7 linked regions of the Homo sapiens genome follow. The protein of the gene in region 7 purifies or fractionates together with the protein of the main gene of each other region. This does not show direct contact. Each region holds a gene or a part of one and is shown on either strand. Other genes may lie near its edges.

Evidence for each region.
Region 1: the proteins of KMT2E (region 7) and RBBP6 purify together in Homo sapiens (affinity purification with mass spectrometry, with the first as the bait; one study listed by BioGRID). This does not show direct contact.
Region 2: the proteins of KMT2E (region 7) and DDX50 purify together in Homo sapiens (affinity purification with mass spectrometry, with the first as the bait; one study listed by BioGRID). This does not show direct contact.
Region 3: the proteins of KMT2E (region 7) and DDX24 purify together in Homo sapiens (affinity purification with mass spectrometry, with the first as the bait; one study listed by BioGRID). This does not show direct contact.
Region 4: the proteins of KMT2E (region 7) and CDK11B purify together in Homo sapiens (affinity purification with mass spectrometry, with the first as the bait; one study listed by BioGRID). This does not show direct contact.
Region 5: the proteins of KMT2E (region 7) and SART1 purify together in Homo sapiens (affinity purification with mass spectrometry, with the first as the bait; one study listed by BioGRID). This does not show direct contact.
Region 6: the proteins of KMT2E (region 7) and SMYD3 purify together in Homo sapiens (affinity purification with mass spectrometry, with the first as the bait; one study listed by BioGRID). This does not show direct contact.

What each region holds. Positions count from the first base shown.
Region 1 is NC_000016.10:24,567,066-24,570,565, forward strand, and holds part of RBBP6 (E3 ubiquitin-protein ligase RBBP6), read left to right. Parts: intron 1-77; coding exon 78-440; intron 441-726; coding exon 727-828; intron 829-1,679; coding exon 1,680-3,434; intron 3,435-3,500. UniProt on the Homo sapiens protein: E3 ubiquitin-protein ligase which promotes ubiquitination of YBX1, leading to its degradation by the proteasome.
Region 2 is NC_000010.11:68,939,315-68,942,814, forward strand, and holds part of DDX50 (ATP-dependent RNA helicase DDX50), read left to right. Parts: intron 1-1,745; coding exon 1,746-1,880; intron 1,881-3,500. UniProt on the Homo sapiens protein: ATP-dependent RNA helicase that may play a role in various aspects of RNA metabolism including pre-mRNA splicing or ribosomal RNA production.
Region 3 is NC_000014.9:94,050,203-94,053,702, forward strand, and holds part of DDX24 (ATP-dependent RNA helicase DDX24), read right to left. Parts: intron 2,926-3,500; coding exon 2,796-2,925; intron 1,261-2,795; coding exon 989-1,260; 3' UTR 1-988. UniProt on the Homo sapiens protein: ATP-dependent RNA helicase that plays a role in various aspects of RNA metabolism including pre-mRNA splicing and is thereby involved in different biological processes such as cell cycle regulation or innate immunity.
Region 4 is NC_000001.11:1,635,005-1,638,504, reverse strand, and holds the end of CDK11B (cyclin-dependent kinase 11B), read left to right. Parts: coding exon 1-5; intron 6-621; coding exon 622-743; intron 744-991; coding exon 992-1,097; intron 1,098-1,302; coding exon 1,303-1,424; intron 1,425-1,500; coding exon 1,501-1,608; intron 1,609-1,651; coding exon of another isoform or gene 1,652-1,706; coding exon 1,707-1,823; intron 1,824-2,023; coding exon 2,024-2,172; intron 2,173-2,378; coding exon 2,379-2,568; intron 2,569-2,648; coding exon 2,649-2,741; 3' UTR 2,742-3,280; downstream 3,281-3,500. UniProt on the Homo sapiens protein: Plays multiple roles in cell cycle progression, cytokinesis and apoptosis. Involved in pre-mRNA splicing in a kinase activity-dependent manner. Isoform 7 may act as a negative regulator of normal cell cycle progression.
Region 5 is NC_000011.10:65,964,734-65,968,233, reverse strand, and holds part of SART1 (U4/U6.U5 tri-snRNP-associated protein 1), read right to left. Parts: intron 3,143-3,500; coding exon 3,016-3,142; intron 2,893-3,015; coding exon 2,787-2,892; intron 2,533-2,786; coding exon 2,455-2,532; intron 2,348-2,454; coding exon 2,248-2,347; intron 2,159-2,247; coding exon 2,016-2,158; intron 1,885-2,015; coding exon 1,678-1,884; intron 976-1,677; coding exon 851-975; intron 764-850; coding exon 648-763; intron 556-647; coding exon 413-555; intron 1-412. UniProt on the Homo sapiens protein: Plays a role in mRNA splicing as a component of the U4/U6-U5 tri-snRNP, one of the building blocks of the spliceosome. May also bind to DNA.
Region 6 is NC_000001.11:246,497,280-246,500,779, forward strand, and holds part of SMYD3 (histone-lysine N-methyltransferase SMYD3), read right to left. Parts: intron 1-3,500. UniProt on the Homo sapiens protein: Histone methyltransferase. Specifically methylates 'Lys-4' of histone H3, inducing di- and tri-methylation, but not monomethylation. Also methylates 'Lys-5' of histone H4.
Region 7 is NC_000007.14:105,017,205-105,020,704, forward strand, and holds part of KMT2E (inactive histone-lysine N-methyltransferase 2E), read left to right. Parts: intron 1-3,500. UniProt on the Homo sapiens protein: Associates with chromatin regions downstream of transcriptional start sites of active genes and thus regulates gene transcription. Chromatin interaction is mediated via the binding to tri-methylated histone H3 at 'Lys-4' (H3K4me3).

The sequences.
Region 1 (3,500 bases), on a different chromosome or scaffold from region 7:
TGGATAGAAGAGATAAGCTTACTTGTCTCAGATGACTTTAGTTTGAAGAAGTAATATCTTGGAATTTATTTTTCCAGAAGTATAAACCGTGGGCGACACCACAGCGAAAGATCACAGAGGACTCAAGGCCCGTCACTACCAGCAACTCCAGTCTTTGTACCTGTTCCACCACCTCCTTTGTATCCGCCTCCTCCCCATACACTTCCTCTCCCTCCGGGTGTTCCTCCTCCACAGTTTTCTCCTCAGTTTCCTCCTGGCCAGCCACCACCCGCTGGGTATAGTGTCCCTCCTCCAGGGTTTCCTCCAGCTCCTGCCAATTTATCAACACCTTGGGTATCATCAGGAGTGCAGACAGCTCATTCAAATACCATCCCAACAACACAAGCACCACCTTTGTCCAGGGAAGAATTCTATAGAGAGCAGCGACGACTAAAAGAAGAGTATGTATTCTAATTTGAAATTATTATACACTTTTTTCATTTTCTGATAATAACATTAAATAGGTGTCTGGAAACGTTTTCCAGTGTTTCCAGTTAGTATGAGAAATTCACCTAAAATTTAAACCAAAGCCATACAAGCAACTTCTCAGGGATTCCTAGTTTATAGTTTTAAAGTGGAAAACTAATGGCAATTTCATTCATTTCATTCATGATCTAATTACATTTGTCTTGTTAGTTTTCTTAAATGGTTTTTGTTAACTTTCACTCTTTAACTTTATTTTACTAGGGAAAAGAAAAAGTCCAAGCTAGATGAGTTTACAAATGATTTTGCTAAGGAATTGATGGAATACAAAAAGATTCAAAAGGAGCGTAGGCGCTCATTTTCCAGGTTAGTGTTTTGCAAGCCTTCACAACAGAATTACAAACGGGACTTTGAATATCCAGGGATTAGCTATGGATATAAAGAACATTGCACTTAGGAATTTTTCTGATTCGGTCTAGGTGTATAGAAGTGAAGATGTAGCTTATTTCCCAATATCTGTTCATTGAAATAATGTCTCAGTGTAAATTTTATTGTGTAGAACTAACAGTTGTGGGGATTAAATTGCCCTTGTCCCTTAAAGTTATTCATAGTATCAAATAATTGGGAAATGTTTTTGGAAGGAAAGAAATAGGGGAATAGCCAAAAAACAGTTCCCAGGACCCTTTTACCATAAGGCTACAGCTTCTTGCTGGAACATTAACCTGCGTAATTATGAAGTAGTAGTAGAATACAGATCGCTTTATTGATAGAAAAAGTGAATTATAAAAATTCCCTGGAAGTTTGTTTAAAAGACTTTATTTTTTAGCCTTACACTTGAAATGTGGTTTCTTTTAAAACTAGGCTGTTGGCCAGTATAGGACAAAAAACAGACTCCTACTTCAATATTCAGATAGGAAGTGAAATTTAAAATTAATTGACATTTTGTTTAATGTTAGTTAGCTCATATAACTCACGGTACATTAATGCACTTCACTCTAATTGTTAAGACTTCACTTTTGTTTTGTAACAAGTGATTGCTCCGATTTGTGTACTTTATTCCATTCCAGTAGAGGTCACTGTGCCTCTTTAATCATCTAAGATGAAATTTGATATAAAGATAGATGAAACCGTGAGGAAAGAATGCTAGAATCTGAGAGTCTGTGTTTTATTTTGTATGTATTTCTCAACTATCAACTATTGTTTTGTTTTGTTTTTAGGTCTAAATCTCCCTATAGTGGTTCTTCGTATTCAAGAAGTTCATATACTTATTCTAAATCAAGATCTGGTTCAACACGTTCACGCTCTTATTCTCGATCATTCAGCCGCTCACATTCTCGTTCCTATTCACGGTCACCTCCATACCCCAGAAGAGGCAGAGGCAAGAGCCGCAATTACCGTTCACGGTCTAGATCTCATGGATATCATCGATCTAGGTCAAGGTCACCCCCTTACAGACGCTATCATTCACGATCAAGATCTCCTCAAGCGTTTAGGGGACAGTCTCCTAATAAACGTAATGTACCTCAAGGGGAAACAGAACGTGAATATTTTAATAGATACAGAGAAGTTCCACCACCATATGACATGAAAGCATATTATGGGAGAAGTGTTGACTTTAGAGACCCATTTGAAAAAGAACGCTACCGAGAATGGGAGAGAAAATATAGAGAGTGGTATGAAAAATATTATAAAGGTTATGCTGCTGGAGCACAGCCTAGACCCTCAGCAAATAGAGAGAACTTTTCTCCAGAGAGATTTTTGCCACTTAACATCAGGAATTCTCCCTTCACAAGAGGCCGCAGAGAAGACTATGTTGGTGGGCAAAGTCATAGAAGTCGAAACATAGGTAGCAACTATCCAGAAAAGCTTTCAGCAAGAGATGGTCACAATCAGAAGGATAATACAAAGTCAAAAGAGAAGGAGAGTGAAAACGCTCCAGGAGATGGTAAAGGAAATAAGCATAAGAAACACAGAAAAAGAAGAAAAGGGGAGGAAAGTGAGGGTTTTCTGAACCCAGAGTTATTAGAGACTTCTAGGAAATCAAGAGAACCTACAGGTGTTGAAGAAAATAAAACAGACTCATTGTTTGTTCTCCCAAGTAGAGATGATGCCACACCTGTTAGAGATGAACCAATGGATGCAGAATCAATCACTTTTAAATCAGTGTCTGAAAAAGACAAGAGAGAAAGGGATAAACCAAAAGCAAAGGGTGATAAAACCAAACGGAAGAATGATGGATCTGCTGTGTCCAAAAAAGAAAATATTGTAAAACCTGCTAAAGGACCCCAAGAAAAAGTAGATGGAGAACGTGAGAGATCTCCTCGATCTGAACCTCCAATTAAAAAAGCCAAAGAGGAGACTCCGAAGACTGACAATACTAAATCATCATCTTCCTCTCAGAAGGATGAAAAAATCACTGGAACCCCCAGAAAAGCTCACTCTAAATCAGCAAAAGAACACCAAGAAACAAAACCAGTCAAAGAGGAAAAAGTGAAGAAGGACTATTCCAAAGATGTCAAATCAGAAAAGCTAACAACTAAGGAAGAAAAGGCCAAGAAGCCTAATGAGAAAAACAAACCACTTGATAATAAGGGAGAAAAAAGAAAAAGAAAAACTGAAGAAAAAGGCGTAGATAAAGATTTTGAGTCTTCTTCAATGAAAATCTCGAAACTAGAAGTGACTGAAATAGTGAAACCATCACCAAAGCGCAAAATGGAACCTGATACTGAAAAAATGGATAGGACCCCTGAAAAGGACAAAATTTCTTTAAGTGCGCCAGCCAAAAAAATCAAACTCAACAGAGAAACTGGGAAGAAAATTGGAAGTACAGAAAATATATCAAACACAAAAGAACCCTCTGAAAAATTGGAGTCAACATCTAGCAAAGTTAAACAAGAAAAAGTCAAAGGAAAGGTCAGACGAAAAGTGACTGGAACTGAAGGATCCAGCTCAACTCTGGTGGATTACACCAGGTAGCTGAGTGTAGGGGGTGGGTGTGGAACTTTGTTGGGAGAAGGATTTTCTTCAGTTTTATCCAT
Region 2 (3,500 bases), on a different chromosome or scaffold from region 7:
TTTGAGCTAAGAAGTACCTAAGAAGTTATTTAGTCTCAACTCTCATCCAATGAAGAATCCCTCTTTGGCAGATGGGTCATTTAATCTCTGATTAAATATCTTAGAAACAGGGTGTTAGTGGCTTTAAATTTCTTTCATGGGTTAAACCAAAATCCAGTCTTTATCAGGAATGTCCTATAGGCTTTTCCTCTTGCTATCTTCTTGACGTCATGTCTTATCACTCTCCCCTTTCTTATTTCAGCCACCCTAACCTATTTGGTTTTCCTCAGACATAAACTTAACTATTACACAAGGCCTTTGTACATACTTTCATTGTCTTGAATGTTCTTCCCCTCTAATAACCATGTTGCTTCCTCCTTTACTTCATTCTGGTCTCTGCTCAAATATCATACCAGAGAGGTCTTTCTTGATCACTCTAAAATAGCTTACTCCTCCCTATACTCTTTGTTCCCTAAGCCCTGCTTTATTCCTGTTCGTGACGCTTATTACTATATGATATTCCATATATTTGCTTTTTTGTTTACTGTGTACCCCCCCACCCAACCCCACATACAGGTGTAGGTACATGCACATGCACTAGAATTTACTGTCCATGAGAGAAAGGACTACTTACTGCTGAATCTCTAGCACCTAGTACAGTCTGTGGCACATACGTAGGGCGCACTCAATAAATATTTGTTTGCTGAATGCATCCCCATATCTTCTTAATGTTGATTCTTTTGCTGTTAGTGAAGCTTTACAGAACAAATAATTTTTGCTTATGTAACACTCCTTCAAAAGTTTAAAGAAATTGTTCAGGCATGGTGGCTTATGCCTGTAATCCTAGCACTTTGGGAGGCTGAAGCAGGCAGATCACTTGAGTCCAGGGGTTCAAGACCAACCTGGGCAACCCCGTCTCTACTAAAAATACAAAAATTAGCACGGCATGGTGGCACGCACCTGTAGTTCCAGATGCTTGTGGGGCTGAGGTGAGAAGACTGCTTGAGCCCAGAAGGTTGAGGGTGCAGTGAGCTGAGATCGTGCCACTGCATTCCAACCTGGGTGACAGAGCGAGACCCTGTCTTAAAAAAAAAAAAAAAAGGTTAAAGAAATTTATGTTGTATTTACTTTTTATTTTTTTTTTGAGACAGGGTCTAGTTCTGTCACCCAGGCTGGAGTGCAGTGGTGCAATCTCGGCTCACTGCAACCTCTGCCTCCTGGGCTCCTGGGCTCAAGCCTCCCAAGTAGCTGGGACTGTAGGAGTAGGCCACCATGCCTGGCTAATTATTATTATTATTATTTTTGTAGCAATGGTTATTTCACCATGTTGCCCAGGCTGGTCTCAAACTCCTGGGCTCAAGTGACCCTCCCGCCTCGGTTTCCTAAAGTGCTGAGATTACAGGTGTGAGCCACCACACCCAGCCAAGGTTTTCGTTCCAAGCTGACTTTGACTCCTTCAACATTTCCTTAATTCTTCACTACCTTGTTGTCTTTCTTGGCTCTGGTTTGCTTAATTCTTAATTCTCTCTTAAAGCATAATGGTTAGAATTAAATAGAGTCTTACAGCAATACATAGGATAGTACTTTCAATTATCTATAAACACTATTCTTCTAATAATGTAGTTTCAAAAAAATTTTTTAGCTGCAATGTTATACTTTTGGCTCATAAGAAATGCACAGTTAAGTCTTGAAGGATTATAGAGTTAGAATTTCATTGTACTGCTGCTGATTTATTTCCAAACATAATGTGGTTTTTATTCCTTAAGGGGTTTGTGACCATGACTCTGGAAAGCCTAGAGGAAATACAGGATGTCAGCTGTGCTTGGAAAGAACTTAACAGAAAGCTGAGTAGTAATGCAGTGTCTCAGATTACCAGAATGTGCCTCCTGAAAGGAAATATGGTAGGCTTTTCCAGACAATTAAAAAGCTTTTTAATCAACTACCCCAAATGTTTACAAACACTAGCAAATTTTGTTCTTTCTCTTTGAAGCCTAATGGCATGAATAATGCTGTTTTTTCTCTGTTAGTTTGTTTCCAGTTATAAATTTGGGGCATTATATATGTAACCCATTCCTCCAGAGCTGTAAGTCATTCTGTTCAGTTTGACTATCTAATACCCAAATTATCTAAGTTTCTGCCACATACTGTATGTGGTTGTGTACATGTGTTTATTCTCTTTTTATTTTTTAAATTTTATTTATTTACGACTTTATAGTGATGAGGTCTCACTATTTGCCCAGGCTGGTCTTGAACTCTGGGGCTCAAGTGATCCTCCTACCTTGGACTCCCAAAGTACTGGGATTATAGGTGTGAGCCACTGCACCTGGCCTTTTTGTATTATTATTATTATTATTTTTATTTTTGAGACAGAGTTTCACTCTTGTCGCCCAGGCTAGAGTGCAATGGCACAATCTCGGCTCACTGCAACCTATGCCTCCTGGGTTCAAGCAGTTCTCCTGCCTCAGCCTCCTGAGTAGCTGAGATTACAGGTGCCCGCCACTATGCCCAGCTAATTTTTGTATTTTTAGTAGAGATGGGGTTTCAGCATGTTGGCCAGGCTGGTCTCGCACTCCTGACCTCAGGTGATCCTCCCGCTTCTGCCTCCCAAAGTGCTGGGATTACAGGCGTGAGCCACCATACCCTGTCCATGTTATTATTATTGTGATTATTATTTGGTAAAGATGGGATTTTGCCATGTTGCCCAGGCTGGTCTTGAACTCCTGAGCTCAAGGGATTCACCTGCCTCAGCCTCCCAAAGTGCTGGGATTACAGGCTTGAGCCACTGCACCTGGCATGTGTGTTTATTTTGTAAGACTAAGTAGCTTATGATTGCAGTAGTTAAACAGCTCTATAATTTTGAGGACATGCAGTTTGGTTTTTAAATGGCCTGCTCTTTGTTGTTAATGAATTAATGATATGAATTAAATAAATACTTTAATACATTTATATAGCAAAATTAAAACTGTAATCTTGTGACTGATTTCTTCTAATGGTTTTGAAAAATGATGTTATGTTATTAATTTAACTTTACTGCATAGGTTCATTCTAGCTTGGAATTTATTAACTAGATTGTTTATTGCAAATAATCATCTCTCTCAAAGTTTAATATTACTTGCCTTGTAAAAGGATGTGGGGCAAGTATGAGACAAATATATACTTTCAGGAAAAAAATGTAGAGGGGAGGGAAAAAATAGCAAGATCCATAGGCCAAACTAGTTGCTATACTTGAGTATTAAATTAACTTTCAGCTTATTGACAACTAAGACCATAGAAGAAACATCTTGGGTTATATAATTCTTATTATCTAACAAACATTGCAGCTTTTTTCTTTTTTTTTTGAGACAGGGTCTCACCCTGTCACCCAGGCTGGAGTGCAGTGGCGTGATCTTAGCTCACTGCCACCTCCGCCTCCCAGGCCCAAGCGATCCTCCCACCTCAGCCTCCTGAGTAGCTGGGACTACAGTCATGCATCACCACACCTGGATAATTTTTGCATTTTTTTTGTAGAGATGGAGTTTTCC
Region 3 (3,500 bases), on a different chromosome or scaffold from region 7:
GTTCCCTGAGCACATATTTATACCAGGCTGACCAAGCCTTGAGTTCCTCTTCTCCCAAGGAGCTCAGCTAAGGGAACACAGCATGGCAAGTGCTATGAAGAGGGTAAGCACGGGACACTAAGGGAGCCCCAGGAGAAGCACTGCTTCCCCTTAGAGGCTCAGGACTAGAGGACCCATGGCAGTGCTCCAGGATGGAGAAGGCCAAAAGGCAATCCAGACCGAGGGAAAAGCCTATTCTGCACAAAGGCTCAGGACAAGAGAAGGGGTGCATGGAACCGTGGGCAGGAGCCTGCTCTGTCAAACAGGAGGGAGTGGAGACAAGGCTGGGGCTAGATCCTGAGGGCTTCACACGCCAGACCTAGCGACTGTTACTGTTGGCTCTGTGATGTGAGGGAAGCCTGAAGACAGCAACCTCATCCCTGCCCACCTCCCACGGTGGCTCAGACAATACCCAGGAGAGTGGAGAGAGCTAAGGAGCTATTAGGGTGCTGCTCTGGGTAAAGCAGGAACATGCACCTCTTGAACATTCCAGCCTCTTGCTCCATTCACACTGTCCAATCTTGGCCTGCAGCCAGAGGCCTGACACTATTCCTGTCCTTTCAAGGGCTTAGCACTGTGCTGGCCCAGGAGAATCACTAAGTTAATAATGAAACAAACTACACCACCACCCCCATCTTCTATCTAAAAAAAAAAAAAAAAAATCAGGATGACACAATGGCTCTGACCATTGTTTTTAATTTATGAAATCAAGTTTAACACACAAGAAGCCTATAAACACTGCAATACAGAAAAATTAAGCTGCTGCATTGAATTCTTACTCCAAAACAATGCAAATCTGCATGAGGTCTCTCCCGCTATGGGTGTGAGTGGAAGAGAGGGAGACTTTTTTACCTGGGGTTGGTGGTGGAGTGAAACACAAGGGTGGGAGAGGTTTTGCAAATAGCCAGAGAACAGAAACCAATGTGCAGTCACTGACACACTTGACCAGTTAATTTGCACTTGTACTTGGCTGTGGCTGTTCCGGCTGTGGCTCCTTCGGCTTCTTTGTCTTCTTCTTCTTCTGCTTGGAGAGACAGCTCAAAGCAGACTCGCTCTTACTTGGGGCAGACACAAGCAGGGGCGGCTTGCCAGACTGAGTGGGATACTTGGTTTTCTGGCTCTCCGTAAACAGTGGCTGGGACAGCAGGTGGCGCAGCTCCTTCTTCAGAACCTTCATCTGCTTTTGTCTCCGACGTTCTTCTTGCTGGTCAGCTTTTCCTCCTTGAAACACAATACAAAAACGATCCTATTTACTATGGTTTGTAGAAACATTTTGTTTCCCTTGATGGGTAACACAGTGAAAAATGTTTTAGAACTACTTTAGGGAGGCAGGGTTCAAAAGTTCTCTGAAGAAGCTAGTGGTGGCTTGGCAGGGGCTGTAAATGGATAACGTCTAACCATTTGCAGGGGATACACAGGACCGCTCTGTCCTTTTTTACTCCATAAAAATCCTCCAAGACTGGAATTATCTTTACAGATGAGGCAACTCAGGGTTAGAGAAGTCACCTGGCTCACATCACAGAGCCAGTCATCAGACAGAGCCCAGAACCCAAGTCTCCTGACTGAAGATCACTTTTCTTCCTATGACCCACCCACTTACTGCCCACCTGGGGTTTGGTGAGTTCACAATTACAACCCCCACCTCCCTGCCGCCCCAGGAGACACTGAATGCTTCTTTGTAGCCCAGCTCTCCTATGCCTTGCCACCAGTGCTGTGACTGCACATGGAGAAGCTGGCAGAGCCAAAAGGTTCCACCTCAGTCTGTCCTCAGGAAGGGAAGCCAGGGCCTCCACATCTTCGGCCCAAGCCCCAACCCTGAGCCACCAGAAATAGCTCACTGTCATCAAGCCCACTGGTTTGGCTCCTGGCTTCCATGCTGAGCAGACAGCAGTTAAGTCTGCCTCTGAATTTGCTGACTTGGGCACCGAGGTGTCAACATCTCTGCTGAGCTGCATACTTGGTGGTGTGGAAGGAGCATGGAGTTCTAGATTTGGTTCTACCACTTTTTAGACCAGGAGTTTTCTCAAGCAGGGACCGGGCAGATTCATCCCTGAAGCCTCAGCCTGTGGTCACATATAGAGTAGCAGCTCTGGAAATGCCTTGTGACAGAGCTGTTTCCCTGCACAAACTGCCTCTGCTGTGGTATCTAGTTTCCATATGTAAAAGAAGAGTACTTCCTGCTGTGTTCATGTCATGAAAGTGGAGAAGATCAAATGAGATAATGGCATGGAAGTGCTTTGTCAGCTTGGAAGGCAGGTGTAGTAGGAACCATAATGACAAATAACTTAAAATGTAATACTTTCTATTTGCCAGGCAATGCTATAAGCACTTAACATTTTTTAACTCAATCAGTCTTCACAACAATCCCATGAAGTAGGTAGTTGACTACTTCCATTTTATGGAGGAGAAAGCTGAGAACACAACAGAGGTTAAATAACTTGACTCAGTCACATAGTTAAGGCAATGAGCCGGCATTCTAACACAGGCAGCCTGGCCAGAGAGCCTGCTCCCTTCCTCACTGTACTCCACTGCCTGTCCATGTAAGAGGAGGCAGCTGAGGGCACAAGACAGAGACAGAGGAAACAAAGACTGACCGAGGGCAGTAGGCTCACCTGGGACCAGGGCCTGTTAGCAAAGAGGGGGAAGGACGCCTTGCTGATTTTGACAAGACCCACAGTAGTAGAGATGGTTCCAACAAAGCAAAAGTTAAAGAGAGATTTCAACTTCCTCAATTCCCATCCCGCCCAAGGGCTTACCCTTATACATGTCTTCTTCCAGCTCAATCTCCAGGGCAGCTGCTGCCTGCTCAATCCAAGAGTTGTGCAGGCAAGCCTGGAAGTTCCGATACTCAGATTTCTCAATCTGTCGAGCTAAACGGATTCGCTCCTGGGGGGAAGTAACAGAAAATATTCATCTGAAATAGAGTTCAGGCCTCTGGGAAGCAAAGTCTCACTTGAGTTGTGTTTGTGTGTTTAAGGCAGGTATCACTCTGCTGCCCAGGCTGGAGAGCAGTGGCATGATCATGGCTCACTGCAGCCTCAACCTCCTTGGATCAAGCAATCCTCCCACCTCAGCCTCCCAAGCAGCTGGGAGGCACCACCATGCCTAGGTAATTTCTTTTTTTTTTTTTTTTTTTTTTTTTTTTTCGTAAAGACAGGGTCTCAACTGTGTTGTCTAGGCTGGTCTTGAACTCCTGTGCTCAAGCAATCTTTCCACTTCAGCCTCCTAAAGTGTTGGGATTACAGGCGTGAGCCACCGTGCCCAGCAAGTAGTGTTTTTAAAAAGCTCTTGAGCCGGGCATGGTGGCTCACACCTGTAATCCTAGCACTCTGGGAGGCCAAGGCGGGCGGATCACCTGAGGTCAGGAGTTCAAGACCAGCCTGACCAACATGGAGAAACCCCGTCTCTACTAAAAATACAAAATTAGCTGGGCATGGTGGCGCATGCCTGTAATCCCAGCT
Region 4 (3,500 bases), on a different chromosome or scaffold from region 7:
AACAGGTGGGTGGGGTCCCCTCACCCCACAAAGGCAGGGGAAGTGGGGCAGGGGCTGGCTGCCCGAGAGCTGCGACTGCACCTGGGCCCGCCTCACCTGAGCAGCTACTGGAGGTTGGACCCCTCAGCACCTCTAGAAGCCAGAGGTCAGCCTGGCCCTGGGGCTTTGCCACTCCCTTGCAGTAGCAGGCGGCCTGCCCCACAGGGCCGAGGCCCAGCGCGTGGAGTGGTCTGTGCCGGGGCTGGTGTGCAGGTTTGCGTTCCCAGCGTCCCACCCAAGCAGGTGTGTGAGCCGGGAACTCTGTTGGGAGTCGGCCACTGGGATCCCAGGTGAGGCCGGCTCTGTTGGGGAAGTCGATGTGGAGTCGGCGTGGCCGCTGGGATCCCAGGTGGCTGTAGGTGGCTGTGAGTGTCTGTGGTGTGTTGAGTGGGAAGCCGTGGGTGTTGCCCAGACCTCAGCTGGGGCGTTCTCCTGGTGCCCACGTGCCCCCACCTAGAACGAGACCCCCCTCCGTGAAATGCTGGCGCTTTGGGCACTGCCTGCGGTCCTCACTGAACGAGTCCACTGTTGGTACCGTGACTTTGAGAATGCCTCTCAGTGCCGTCTGTATTTTCTTCACAGATGAAATTGTGGCTCTAAAGCGGCTGAAGATGGAGAAGGAGAAGGAGGGCTTCCCGATCACGTCGCTGAGGGAGATCAACACCATCCTCAAGGCCCAGCATCCCAACATCGTCACCGTTAGAGTGAGCATGGCCCCACCACGCCTGGCCCCGGGTGGAAGGCTTTTCTGACAGGGCCCCGTGCTGTCCTGGGGCCGGGTGCTTCCTACACTCTCCTGCACTTAGTGGAGCCCTTCACAGACCACACAGAAGCAAGCATTTGCCTCCCGGGTGGCACCGGAGGTCCTTACTGTCCCTCAGCAGCTGCACCCGGGTGCAGGGGTGGGTGGGGGCCTGGAGGTGCCCAGCACCCACAGAGCCGTGCCCTGCAGGAGATTGTGGTGGGCAGCAACATGGACAAGATCTACATCGTGATGAACTATGTGGAGCACGACCTCAAGAGCCTGATGGAGACCATGAAACAGCCCTTCCTGCCAGGTACAGCCGCGCCCCAGGGGCCTGTCTGCGTACAAGTGGGGGCAGGGTCCTGGTCACCCCCGCGGTGACAGTGCTGCAGGGAGGGCCAGCTGCATCCACAGGGAAAGCCCTGAGAAGCCTCTGTTGCTGCCGAGGCGAGTGGGCCACCCTGAGTGCCCTGGGCTGGGGGCAGCCAGGTCCACATGGGAGCTTCCCTCCCTCCCAGGGGAGGTGAAGACCCTGATGATCCAGCTGCTGCGTGGGGTGAAACACCTGCACGACAACTGGATCCTGCACCGTGACCTCAAGACGTCCAACCTGCTGCTGAGCCACGCCGGCATCCTCAAGGTGAGCCCCCCTCCGAGTGGCCCATCCCAGGGAGACCTGCCGGGGCCCACTCACAGCCGCCCATCTGTCGTTGCAGGTGGGTGACTTCGGGCTGGCGCGGGAGTACGGATCCCCTCTGAAGGCCTACACCCCGGTCGTGGTGACCCTGTGGTACCGCGCCCCAGAGCTGCTGCTTGGTGCCAAGGTGAGTCCTGGGCGTCTGAGTGCCTCCCCTGTCCCCCACGCAGCCTCCCACAGCTTCGCGGGCACTGGCCCTCCTGAACACCTCTCCTGACCTCTTAGGAATACTCCACGGCCGTGGACATGTGGTCAGTGGGTTGCATCTTCGGGGAGCTGCTGACTCAGAAGCCTCTGTTCCCCGGGAAGTCAGAAATCGATCAGATCAACAAGGTGTTCAAGGTGGGTCTGGCCCTGCTGCAGGTGCGCTGTGGGGTTGTGGAGGAGTTGCAGGAATGGGGCTGCGGGGCGCACAGGTGCTGGGTTGAGATGGGGACCAGGGCCACTGAGAGCCCTCCTGGTGGCTTGTCTTCTCTGACGGGACACAGGTGCCAACACTGTGGGCCACTTGGTGTGGCTGTTGAAGCACCTCTGTCTTTCAGGATCTGGGGACCCCTAGTGAGAAAATCTGGCCCGGCTACAGCGAGCTCCCAGCAGTCAAGAAGATGACCTTCAGCGAGCACCCCTACAACAACCTCCGCAAGCGCTTCGGGGCTCTGCTCTCAGACCAGGGCTTCGACCTCATGAACAAGTGAGCCCAGTGCAGCCGGGTGGCGGGAGGTCCCGAGCCATAGCGGTGACTTCCCAGTCCCAGGCCTACCTGCTGGCTCACCACGTTCCAGAACTGCTCTGGTGCCTGGCGTCCCATGCCCTGAGCCCCGTCCCAACACAGCCCATCTTTGGGGGACCCAGTGGAGCACACGAGCACCTCCTGGGCCTCTGGCCCTCTCCCCCCAGGTTCCTGACCTACTTCCCCGGGAGGAGGATCAGCGCTGAGGACGGCCTCAAGCATGAGTATTTCCGCGAGACCCCCCTCCCCATCGACCCCTCCATGTTCCCCACGTGGCCCGCCAAGAGCGAGCAGCAGCGTGTGAAGCGGGGCACCAGCCCGAGGCCCCCTGAGGGAGGCCTGGGCTACAGCCAGCTGGTGAGGGGCCTGGCGGGTGGGGCGTGCCCACAGGTGGGGCTGGCTTGGGCAGGGTTCTCACGGTAGCCGACTCGTCCCAGGGTGACGACGACCTGAAGGAGACGGGCTTCCACCTTACCACCACGAACCAGGGGGCCTCTGCCGCGGGCCCCGGCTTCAGCCTCAAGTTCTGAAGGTCAGAGTGGACCCCGTCATGGGGAGAACTCAGCCGGGACCACAGGCGTGGCTACTGCGGCTGGAGCTGCGATGAGACTCGGAACTCCTCGTCTTACTTTGTGCTCCATGTTTTGTTTTTGTATTTTGGTTTGTAAATTTGTAGAATTAAATCATTTTCCTTGTTGTGGAGGAAAGAGCTGTGTTTTCTCCGTGACTTGCCCAGGGCGGAGAGGGTGGACATCTTCGGGTGCCCACGTGGGGCAGCACAAACCTCCACACACCCTCTCCCACTCTCGACACGCACGGGGCTGGCTGGGCCGTGATTTGGAAAGGAACTGGTGGGAGCCGGGTGGATTGTTTAATCTTCGGAGCTGGAGACCTGTTTCTGTGTTGGGATGAGCGATGCCCTCTTGCCCCAACCCACTCGTCCAGACCAGCCCTGTCCACACAGGCCCCCGGCCCCCAACCCCCAGCCCCAGCTGTGCCAGCAGACTCGACAGGTTTTTATACAAGGTTGTTGAGTTTTAAAATGTATTAAAATATTCTTCGAGGAAAGCTCCCCGTGTCGTCCTTTGAGTGACCCGGGACCATGTGTGGGAGGGGAGTCGCAGACCACCGGGCTCTAGGGGAAGAGGGTGGGGTGGGCGGCTGTGGCCTCTGACCCCATGTGGGCCAGTGTCTTCCCCAGGCAGGAGGGGAGCTCCTACCTCCTGGGGGGCCTCCACTCTGGCAAGGTGGTCCCCCACCCTGTGCCAGTCCTCCCAGCCCCCACCCAC
Region 5 (3,500 bases), on a different chromosome or scaffold from region 7:
GCACACACCTGTAATTTTAGCATTTTCGGAGGCAGAGGCAGGCAGATCATGAGGTCAGGAGTTGGAGACCAGCCTGGCCAACATAGTGAAACCCCGTCTCTACTAAAAATATAAAAATTAGCCGGGTCTGGTGGCGTGCGCCTGTAATCCCAGCTACTCAGGAGGCTGAGGAATAAGAATCACTTGAGCCTGGGAGGCGGAGGTTGCAGTGAGCTGAGGCTGCGCCACTGCATTCCAGCCTGGGCGAAAGAGCGAAACTCTGTCTCAAAAAAAAAAAAAAAAAACAAACCCAGAAAACAAAAAACAAATGGAAAAGAGGCTTCAGACAGGAATGTGGCTGTCGCCTATGACACAGGTGCTCGTGAGGACAGGTGACTGCTGACGCAGTCACCCTGCCCATGCCCAGCCTCACCTTCTCGCCACTGTCTCGCAGCTGCTGTAGCTGCTGTAACTGTCGCAGCCGGCGTCCCTTCTCCAGCTGCTTCTGCAGCTCCAGCTCCGCCTCGTCCTCCTCCAGCACCTGCGGGGACCCCGGCGGTGGAGCTCCACCTTCCTCTGGGGGAAACACAGGGGATGCCTGCTCAGACCATCTCCTCCAACCCGCGGCTCCTGTCCCTGCCCCTCCCACCCCCTGGCCGGGCCCTCACCCTCATCACTGATGTCCATGTTCTCCACTCGGGTGTCGTCCGACGGCAGGGGCTGAGGCACAGGCTCCTTCTCCTCCTCCACTTCGGACACTCGGCGGCGACCCCGTCCCCGCAGTCTGAGGGAAGGAGGCCTCTCTGGTGAGCACCGGTCCCCAGGCCACCCCAGCCCAGCCATCTCGCCCCACCACCGTGTCCAAGCCCACCTGGAACCAAAGTCCCCATCCTGAGTCTGGTCCCCGAGAGGCAGCAAGTCATCTGCCCGCACTACTACCTCCTTCTCCTTCTTGCGGATTTTCTTCACCCTCCGCTTGGTCTTTTTAAAGGTCACCTTAAGGGAAGAGGGGCGAGACATGGAGCGGGGGCCACAGAAAGGCAGGTCGCCACAAGCCCTCGAGGGTGAACACTTCTTTGGTGTTCCTCTGTGCTAGCCAGCGTCCTGAGCGCTTCCCACACATGAGCAACATGTGGGGTGGTTACTATCTCAATTCCACTGGTGAGCTAGGGAAACTGGGGCACAGGGAGGTTAAGTACCTTCCCCAAGGTTGCCCAGCTCCTAGGTGGGAGAGCTGGGCAGTCTGGCTCCAGAGTCCTGCTCTTACCCACTGAGGAAGACGCCTACCGCGCCAGCTGTCTACCTCACGTTCACACAGTCACCCTGTGGACAGAATCCACGCACACCTCTCCAGTCACCCCTCACCCACGCTGTCACTCATCCTCACAGCAACCTCAGGAGGCGGCTCCTGTCACTGCCATTCCAGATGGGGTGCCCCAGGCTCACAGTTAAATGGTTTATCCAAGGCACGAGCTGGCAGCATGGCAGAGCCGAAACAGACTGGGGCCCATCTGGCTCAGCAGCCCTGACCCATCCACACCTGGTGCCTCCCCCGGTTGCCATTTAGTGCTCACCCGCGAGGCCAAGCGCTTTGTGAACACAAATACTCGCCCTGTCTTCTCAGTGCCTGCGGGCAGGGCAGGAGCCCCAGAGGGAGGGAGAATCTTGACCCCGAGTATAAGGCACGGGAGGGCTCACCATCTCCTCAGGCGTGAGGTATTCGGAGGCCAGCCGGGGCCCCACTGTGCTCAGGGACTGAGCCTGCAGCCGCAGCTTGGCCCGGATCTCCTCCAGCTCCCGCTCCCGCAGGCCATCAGCCGTGCCGCCCTGCTCCAAGCGGAAGGAATGTGGCCGCTCCCCTTCAAGCTCTTCGTCATACTTGGACAGGATAGAGCGAGGTTTTTGCTGCAAGGCAAGAGGTACAGGTTGGGACCCAGGCTGGCTCCTGAAAAGCCACTGAGCCACCACCTCCTCAGAGCCCCCATTCCCGACATTCTCCACCTCAGCCCCCGCCACCCAGCCTGCCCAGGCCGTGCCTGCGCCAGGTCGTCCACGCTCTCGTCCTCGGCATAGGGCAGGTAGTCAGGCTTCTTCTTCCGCAGCTCCACATTTTTCTCTGCCCGCTCCTTATCCACCAGGTTCACGTTCACCAGCACGTCCTCCTCCTCCTGCAGCACGCCTGGGGGCAGCACAGAGCAGTGGCCATTCACACTTGTCCGCAACTCAGCAGAGGCTGTGCCCCCACCCAGGGCACCCAGCTCGCATTACCTTTGTCCTTGAGGGTAAGAATCATTGTCTCCCCTTCTCGGAAGGAATCAATGGCATGCTCCACGGTGAGGCCCTGCAGGTCCCGGGCACTGTACAGGTCCTAAGGGAAGAATCGGCGAGTCAGGAACCTCCCTCCACGCACCCAACCTCGGGATTCCGGTAGCAAGGCCACCAGTGTCCCCTGTACCACCCCTGCTGCAGCCTCACCTGCCGCCTCTGCCCGAACTCCTCCTCCACCAGAGTGCTGACACCAAACTCTTGGTCCATCTCCTCCAGTAACTTGGCCTACGGGACAGGGAGGGGTGACCTAGGACTTCAGGCCACTCAGCATCACCAGAAAACACTCAGGGCTCTACCAAGCGGAGTGCAAAAAGGGCAGGCCTTGCAGGAAAGCTGCTGAGAATCCAAAGTAGATGCTACCGACCACGGCCCTTCCCTTCTCCAAGCCCCGTCTCACCTCTCTGGGGTTGGCCCCCGCCTCAGTGCCGTCAGGCCACCAGAAGCACTAGGCGACCACCCCATGCTGCCCAGGTGCTCACCCTCTTCTCTGCCAGGTCCTTCTCCTTCTGCAGCTGCCGGCTCCTCTCGATCCAGGCTGCAGTGTCGTCCAGCCAGGGGTCATCCTCTCCTAGGGTCTTTATCTTCCTGAAGAGGGGAAAAAGTGATGCTCAAGGAGCCCAGCTCCTGCTCCCCACCCCACTCAAGAGGCAGCCAAGGATGGTGGCCTCCCCAGCCCTTCCCTTGCCTGCCCTGGCCAGGACCCCTCACCCCAGCTTTTGGTTCAGCAGGCGCTTCTCCTTGGCAGCCGCCAGCTTCTCCCGCAGCTCCTCTCGCTGTCGCAAGGCCATAGGGTTGATGACATCAGCTGTCACGGGCTCCTCCTTGGTGCCCGCCTCTGGAAGGGGGGCCCAGACGTGAGGCTATGCCCGCCCATGGCTGGTGGGGAGAGGAGGGAGCCACTCACCCTGCCCCCTTCCAGCTCAGGGGGCCAGAAGGGGTCAGGACAGGAAGGAACAATCCTTCACCTCCCTGCTCCCACTTCGTCCCCACACTCCTGGCCAACCCATGCAGCACAACAGGACCCTCTGTGGCTTCCAAAGCCCCTCAAATCGTGCTTTAAAGAAAAACAAGAAACCCACCCCCGCACAGCGCAGTCTGCAGCAAGTGTGCACATCTTCCAGTCCATCTAACAACTCACAGCCAGAGTGAGTATGCGACGGCCACAGCTCCAACTCAGAGAGCAGGCGGAGCCC
Region 6 (3,500 bases), on a different chromosome or scaffold from region 7:
TCATTAGTGAGTTTTATATAGATATTTATGACAAAATTTAACTTGTTTGCCCTTTTTTGGTCTAATTCAAAATAAGAGTTAATGGCAAATGTCAGAGGCTAAGAACAGTTTGGAAAGGGGGTTCATGAAGGAGACCACTCAGAGACAGTGTTTTAGTGGCTAAAAAATAAGTTGCCTTTCTGAAAAATATTTGTATGCTTTTTACTCCATTGTCCACCAGAGGGAGCATCACATCTGATTAAGAGATAATGGGGAACTCCCAGATAGAAATGGAAAATCATCTGAAACTTGATCTACGAGGTGCTACAGATGGTAGCATATACAGTTAAATGTAAAATCAAATCAGAGAACCCCCAAAAGAATCTCAAAGTGAGTGGGAGGACAGCCTCCTAGGGAGATCTCATCTCTAAAAAAAAATTTTCTTTTAATTAGCTGGGTATGATGTTGCACGCCTGTGGTCTCAGCTGCTCAGAAAATTCTGGAGGCTGAGGAGGGAGGATCACTTGAGCCCAGGAATTCAAGGCTGCAGTGACCTATGATCAAACCACTGCATTACAGCCTGGGTAACACAGGGAGACCCCAGTCTCTAGAGGAAAAAAAAAAAGAAAAGGAAAAAACAAGAAAAATGAGCAAAAGATAAATACAGACAAATCACAAAAAGATATAAATATGGCCTTTAAACACATGAAAAGATGTTTAACTTCACCCATAATGCAATTTAAATGCAAATTAAAACTATACTAAGATCCCACTTCTCACCCATAAGCTTAGCAAAAATTCAAAAGTTCAGGCTGCAAAGCTAAGGGAAACAAGTACTCACATACATCATTAGTGGGAATGCAAAATGGTACAACCCCACATAGGTATTTACACCTTGACCCAGAAATCCCATTTTGAGGAATCTACCCTGAAGATACACCAGCAACAATATAAAAATACACACATGCAAGGTTATTCATTAGAGCAATATGCACAATTGCAAAATACTGGAAATTGCCTAAATATCCACACATAGGAAATTAGAAAGTACAGTGGATACATAAAATTGAGCATTATGGAGCTATAACGAATAAGGAAGATCTCCATGAACTGATAGTAGAGTGATTTCCAGTAGACACAAAGATAATGAAGCAAGTGCAAAACTAAGAATGGAAAATAAGAACACACATATAGGCCGGGCACAGTGGCTCACGCCTGTAATCCCAGCACTTTGGGAGGCCGAGGCGGGTGGATCACGAGGTCAGGAGATCGAGACCATCCTGGCTAATGGTGAAACCCTGTCTCTACTAAAAATACAAAAAATTAGCCAGGCGTGATGGCGGGTGCCTGTAGTCCCAGCTACTCGGGAGGCTGAGGCAGGAGAATAGTGTGAACCTGGGAGACGGAGCTGGCAGTGAGCCGAGATCGCACCACTGCACTTTAGCCTGGGCAACAGAGCAAGACTCCGTCTCAAAAAAAAAAAAAAAAAAGAACACACATATATACTTGCTTATCTTAAAAAGAAAAAATATAAGATGAACCAGACGCTACGGTCTGAATGCTTATACCCCCCAGGCTGGAGTCCAGTGGCACGATCATGGCTCACTGCAGCCTTGACCTCCTAGGCTCAAGTGATCCTCCCACCTCAGCCTCCCAAGTAACTGTGATTACAAGGGTGCACACCATCCCACCCAGATAATTTTTTGTTTTTTTTTTTAACAAGATGAAGTTTCCCTATGTTGCCCAAGGTGGTTGTGAGCTCCTGGCCTCAAATGATCCTCCCACCTCGTCCTAACAAAGCACTGGGATTACAGGTGTAAGCCACCACTTGATTAAGCCAGACTTTAGAGAGACATGAAAAAAATGTAAAGCAATGCAATTCTCATTAAATTTTCGTTGTTTTAAAAAATACACACGGGCCTATAGTCCCAGCTATTCGGGGGACTGAGGCAGGACAATCGCTTGAACCCAGGAGGCAGAGGTTGCAGTGAGCCGAGATTGTACCACTGCACTCCAGCCTGGGCAACAAAGCGAGACTCTATCTCAAAAAAAGAAAATATAGTTTGATTCCTTAAAAAATTGTTACAACATAATAAATTTACATATATGTAACAATTTTTTAAGTAACCAAACCATCAAATATACACACACACACACACACACACACATATATATATTTTTGTTATTGTTGTTTTGTTGTTGTTGGGTATTTTTTGGAGGCAGGGTCTCACTGTGTCACCCAGGCTGGAGTGCAGTGGCGCAGTCTCAGCTCACTGCAGCCTCCACCTCCCAGGTGCAAGCGATTCTCCTGCCTCAGCCTCCAAAGTAGCTTGATTACAGGCATGCACCACCACATCTGGCTAATTTTTGTATTTTTAGTAGAGACGGGGTTTCGCTACGTTGGCCAGGCTGGTCTCAAACTCCTGGGCTCATGTGATCTGCCCACCTCGGCCTCCCAAAGTGCTGGAATTACAGGTGTGAGCCACCACGCCCTGCCTTAAATTTATGTTTAAATAGGTATTTTCAAAACTTAGTTTTAATTTTTATGCAATAAATATAAATAGATAAAACCCACATAAACAAAACATCATCAGCACTCTCAATAACGTTTTTTAAATCCCTATCAAATCCATTTTGATAATTTGTAAAAGGATAAAGGGGTCCTGAGACTAAAAGGTCTGAGAACCACTGGTCTATAACACCAGCTGCCTTAAATGCCAGAGTATGTTAAGAGCAGGGGCTGGGGCTGGGGACTGTATCGCTTCTGTTGCCTGATAATGCTGGATTCTGCACTACCATCACCACAGACACTGGGCCCTGCTGCTGCTGCTGCTCCTTGGGAAACTGGTTGTTGCTGGAGAGTGATTCTCTCAACCATTCTTCTTTGTGATACTGGCTTTTATTCAAAGTCCTCAGAGAGCATCTTAGATTGACCGAACTTAGGTCACTGCCCGCACCCTAGCTGCAAGGGAGGTTGAGAAGGTATTTAGCCTTTTTGGCTTTTTCGATAGAAGGCAGACTTGGTCTACATCCCACCAATAGTCTTCCAATGAGGAAATCGGCAAACATAAACAGTCAAAACCACAAGCATTAGCCCATTGCTCTAATTCTTTCTGGGAAGGTCAGAGGCAACCTTGTGGGGAATATCACAGCTCTATCAAAGATTCTCAGTGGATCTTAGAGATGGTGGTATTACACACAGGGAAGACAAATCCAAGTACAGGAAAAAAATTGATATTCCAACTGACTCCTCCATGACAAAAAGTTCTACCATAATAACCCGACACAAGGTGGCTGGCTGGTCCTGAAGATGTGTTGCCATTTGGGGAATCAGGACCAGTTACTACTGGCAGCAAACTGGGCACTCTGTACCAGCAGAAGCCACATGGCTATCATGAGGGGAAGTCTGTATTGTTGAGTTCCAGGCACCAGCCTCTATCCCCGTCCCCATGGTTGCTCTGTTCTTGAGCCTTTTGAGCAAGCACCAGGCTGTCTGAAGAACAACTTACTGCTATCCACAA
Region 7 (3,500 bases):
CATAGGAGGGAACACTGCCTGTGCCCGATGGTTTTCTTCATAGAGACCTTGGTCAGGTCTAGACAGACAAAGCAATTGAACTTATTTGGCTTCAAATGAAAAATACCAAGTTAGAAATTATAGGAAAAGCTGTCTTCAGTTTACTAGCTTTCTTCATATTGGCTTGCTTTATTGCTTTAGGTTTTGTTTCTTTTTGGTGGTGGTGGTGGGTGGTTTTTTTTTGTTTTTTGTTTTTTTTTTTGATGTTTTAGTTCCTGTAAAATGATACTGGCTTTTTTTTTTTTTAAGTATTGTACCTTATTTTGAATGGTTACTTTATAAATCACGAGGCTATAATTGTTTGTTTTTTGTTAATTTACTATGTGTGTTTTAAGTTAGGATTGTCTAGGCAAATTTATTAGAAGGTTAGGCATAATTTTTGTTCCCAGAGAGTTTTGAAAGAATTTGGTTCCTTGGGGGAAACTAGTCAAATGGTCTTTGTTCTAGGATAGCTGAGTTTGAAGGATTAGTTGTTTATCTGTTTAAGTGGATTTGTAGAGAACTATAATGTAATTGGAGAGTTAATTTTATTTTTAGAGCCTACATTTTGATCATACATCCTTTCGTTGTCAGTGTAAATGAAAGGATCTCTCTGATTCCAGTTTAAGTGTAGAGCCTTGACAGGTCTCCATTTCCCGTCAACTCTGTAAGACTGATAACTGCCCTACAATTTTGGCTCGTCTGACTTCCTCACAGCTTCCAGAGAGAAATCATTGCCATATATGCCCCCAGTAAGCTCTAGGACTTCTTGAGTCTATTGAGGCAGTAGGGAGAAAAGCTAATTAATAGGAGAAAAATTTCCCCTCAGTACATATCTTAGTGGTCTTAGGGAAATTATAATTTCTTAAATTGGCTTCTTAATTTCCAAGAATAATGTACTCGTTTTCATTCATCAATCTTCTAAAGAAACCTGTGGTTTAATTTTTAAAGGTGTGTTTTATGTAAACCCTAACAGCTCTGCATTTCTGGAAGCTACTACTACTGGGACTTAAATGTGTACAACCATAGTGTGTTTAAAATGTGTAAAACTAACAGAACTTTGAAGAGCTATCAAAACTGGTTAGGAAATACTAGTATGCAGTTTTCTCAACAGATGCTATTTTATGTTTACTATTTTAAAAATATTTTAATAATGTGTAAAAGCTTTTATCTCCAAAGGATTTGTTTTTAGCAGATGGTAGGTGCTTAATTATTTCTTGGATGTGAATCTTTTATTGAAGCAAACACATTTACATCTCAAATATGTAGGGTGATCAGGGACTGTTCCCTGTTATGTGTTAGAATAAATGTTAAATACTTGTATTCTGTGAGACTTGTTTCCCCCAATTTCATGATAGATTATCTATGAGACTTTTTAATATTGAAAATATAATTATTTTATGGTAAAATTAATTTTTATGTTGACTGGCAAATTAACGAGTGGAATACTATTTGAAATATTACTCTGTGAATGTTACTGGCTTTTAGGCTGGGTTTAAAATTGAAGTGGCTCGTATTTACTACCTGTTCTGTAATGTGCAGATGTTGGGAGGAGCCTTATTTTTTTCTTGACATTGAAAGAATAATTTTTTGTATTACCTACAAATTTACTTAACATGGAGGAACAGTATTTGTTGTTGAAATTGTTTTCTACACTAAACTGGAAGTGGATGGTATTTAACTAAAAATCTTGCAATTGCTATTAAACAATGAGTATTTTGCATTATATAAAATAAACAGTATTTTACTTTGTATAATATAAAATGAGTATTTTACTTTATATAAAATACTCTGTTTAATAGCAATTGCAATATTTTTAATAGCAATTGCAAGAGATAAGAATTAACCATATTATGATGCAAACAAATTGTTTTTTTGTTATTGTGAACTTCCATGCTAAGTGCTACATTAAAAATCAAATGAAGGTGACCCAGAGTAAGTTAATTAGATTTTAATTCATATCTTTAAGGATAAAAGAAGTTTTTATTAACCATTGGTAACTAGGATGCTTTTTACTTAAATCAGAGTCAGGAAAAGCAGTTGGTCTTATATTTCACGAGATAACATGTTTTCACTTGATATGAAATCAGTTCTTTTTTTCCCTCATGAACAGCTCATAATTGGATTTTATTTTTGGACAGAAAAACTTTTTTTATTGTTAGGTGAATTTTACAGTTTTATTGGAAATCTCGTTTGGTTATTTACCAAAACTATTTAAGCTTTTTGGGATGTTGGACATTTTCAATGCAACAGGTCAACAAAGAATTCTTTTTTGATGTGTTGCATTAAGATGCCATCAAAACAGACACTACGTCTTTTAATGAGTAAATAATTAACCTATAATATGTGTAAACTACTTGTTCATCATTTTTAATTAAAATATTTTGTATTTCAAAACTGTTTCAAATATGAAATCTGGGTTTAGAAAGGATCTGCATGCAGGTCAACGTGATAAGCAATGATCTATGTAGCTTTATTTTTACGACAATTGGACAGAGGTAATTTCTTAGCACCTCTTAGGCTGCTTAATTTAGAGTTAATCCAAAGGAAGAAACATTCCTTCAGAAGACTAGGACATATCAGATATTAATTATTAAAAATAGGCTGGGCACGGTGGCTCATACCTGTAATTTCACTACTTTGGGAGGCCGAGGCAGGCGGATCATTTGAGGTCAGGAGTTTGAGACCAGTCTGGCCAACATGGTGAAACCCCATTTCTACTAAAAATTACAAAAATTAGCCGGGCGTGGTGGCAGGTGCCTGCAATCCTACCTACTCAGGAGGGCGAGGCAGGAGAATTGCTTGAACCCAGGAGGCGGAGGTTGCAGTGAGCCGAGATTGTGCCACTGTACTTCAGCCTGGGCGATAGAGTGAGACTCTGTCTCAAAAAAAAAAAAAAAGTAAATAAGTAAATTAAAAAAAAAAATTCTTGGTCCTGAATTTTAATATTGAGAAAGATGATATTGTGTAATCACACCTGTGTAATAGCCAACTTGGTTGCAGCATTTAAGGTCATGCCTGTCTAGCATACGATAGTGGATTGAGTTAGTTTTGGTTTGTGGTACTTACAACTTTAAAGTTCACTTGGCCTGGCATGGTGGCTCACGCTTGTAATCCCAGCACTTTGGGAGGCTGAGGCAGGTGGATCACCTGAGCTCAGGAGTTCAAGACCAGCCTGGCCAACATGGTGAAACCCCATCTCTGCTACAAAAATTAGCTGGGCTTGGTGGCGGGTGCCTGTAATCCCAGCTACTTGGGAGGCTGAGGCAGGAGAATTGCTTGGACCTGGGAGGCGGAGGTTGCAGTGAGCTGAGATCGTGCCAGTGCACTTCAGCCTGGGCAACGAGCGAAACTGCATCTCTAAAAAAATAAATAAAGTTTATGTAATTATGCTGTCTCATGTTTTATCTGAGACCAAAAATGTTTAAATTTTTTCATTTATGTTGACTTTTGTTTTCATAGGGTATTTAAAATAATTTCCA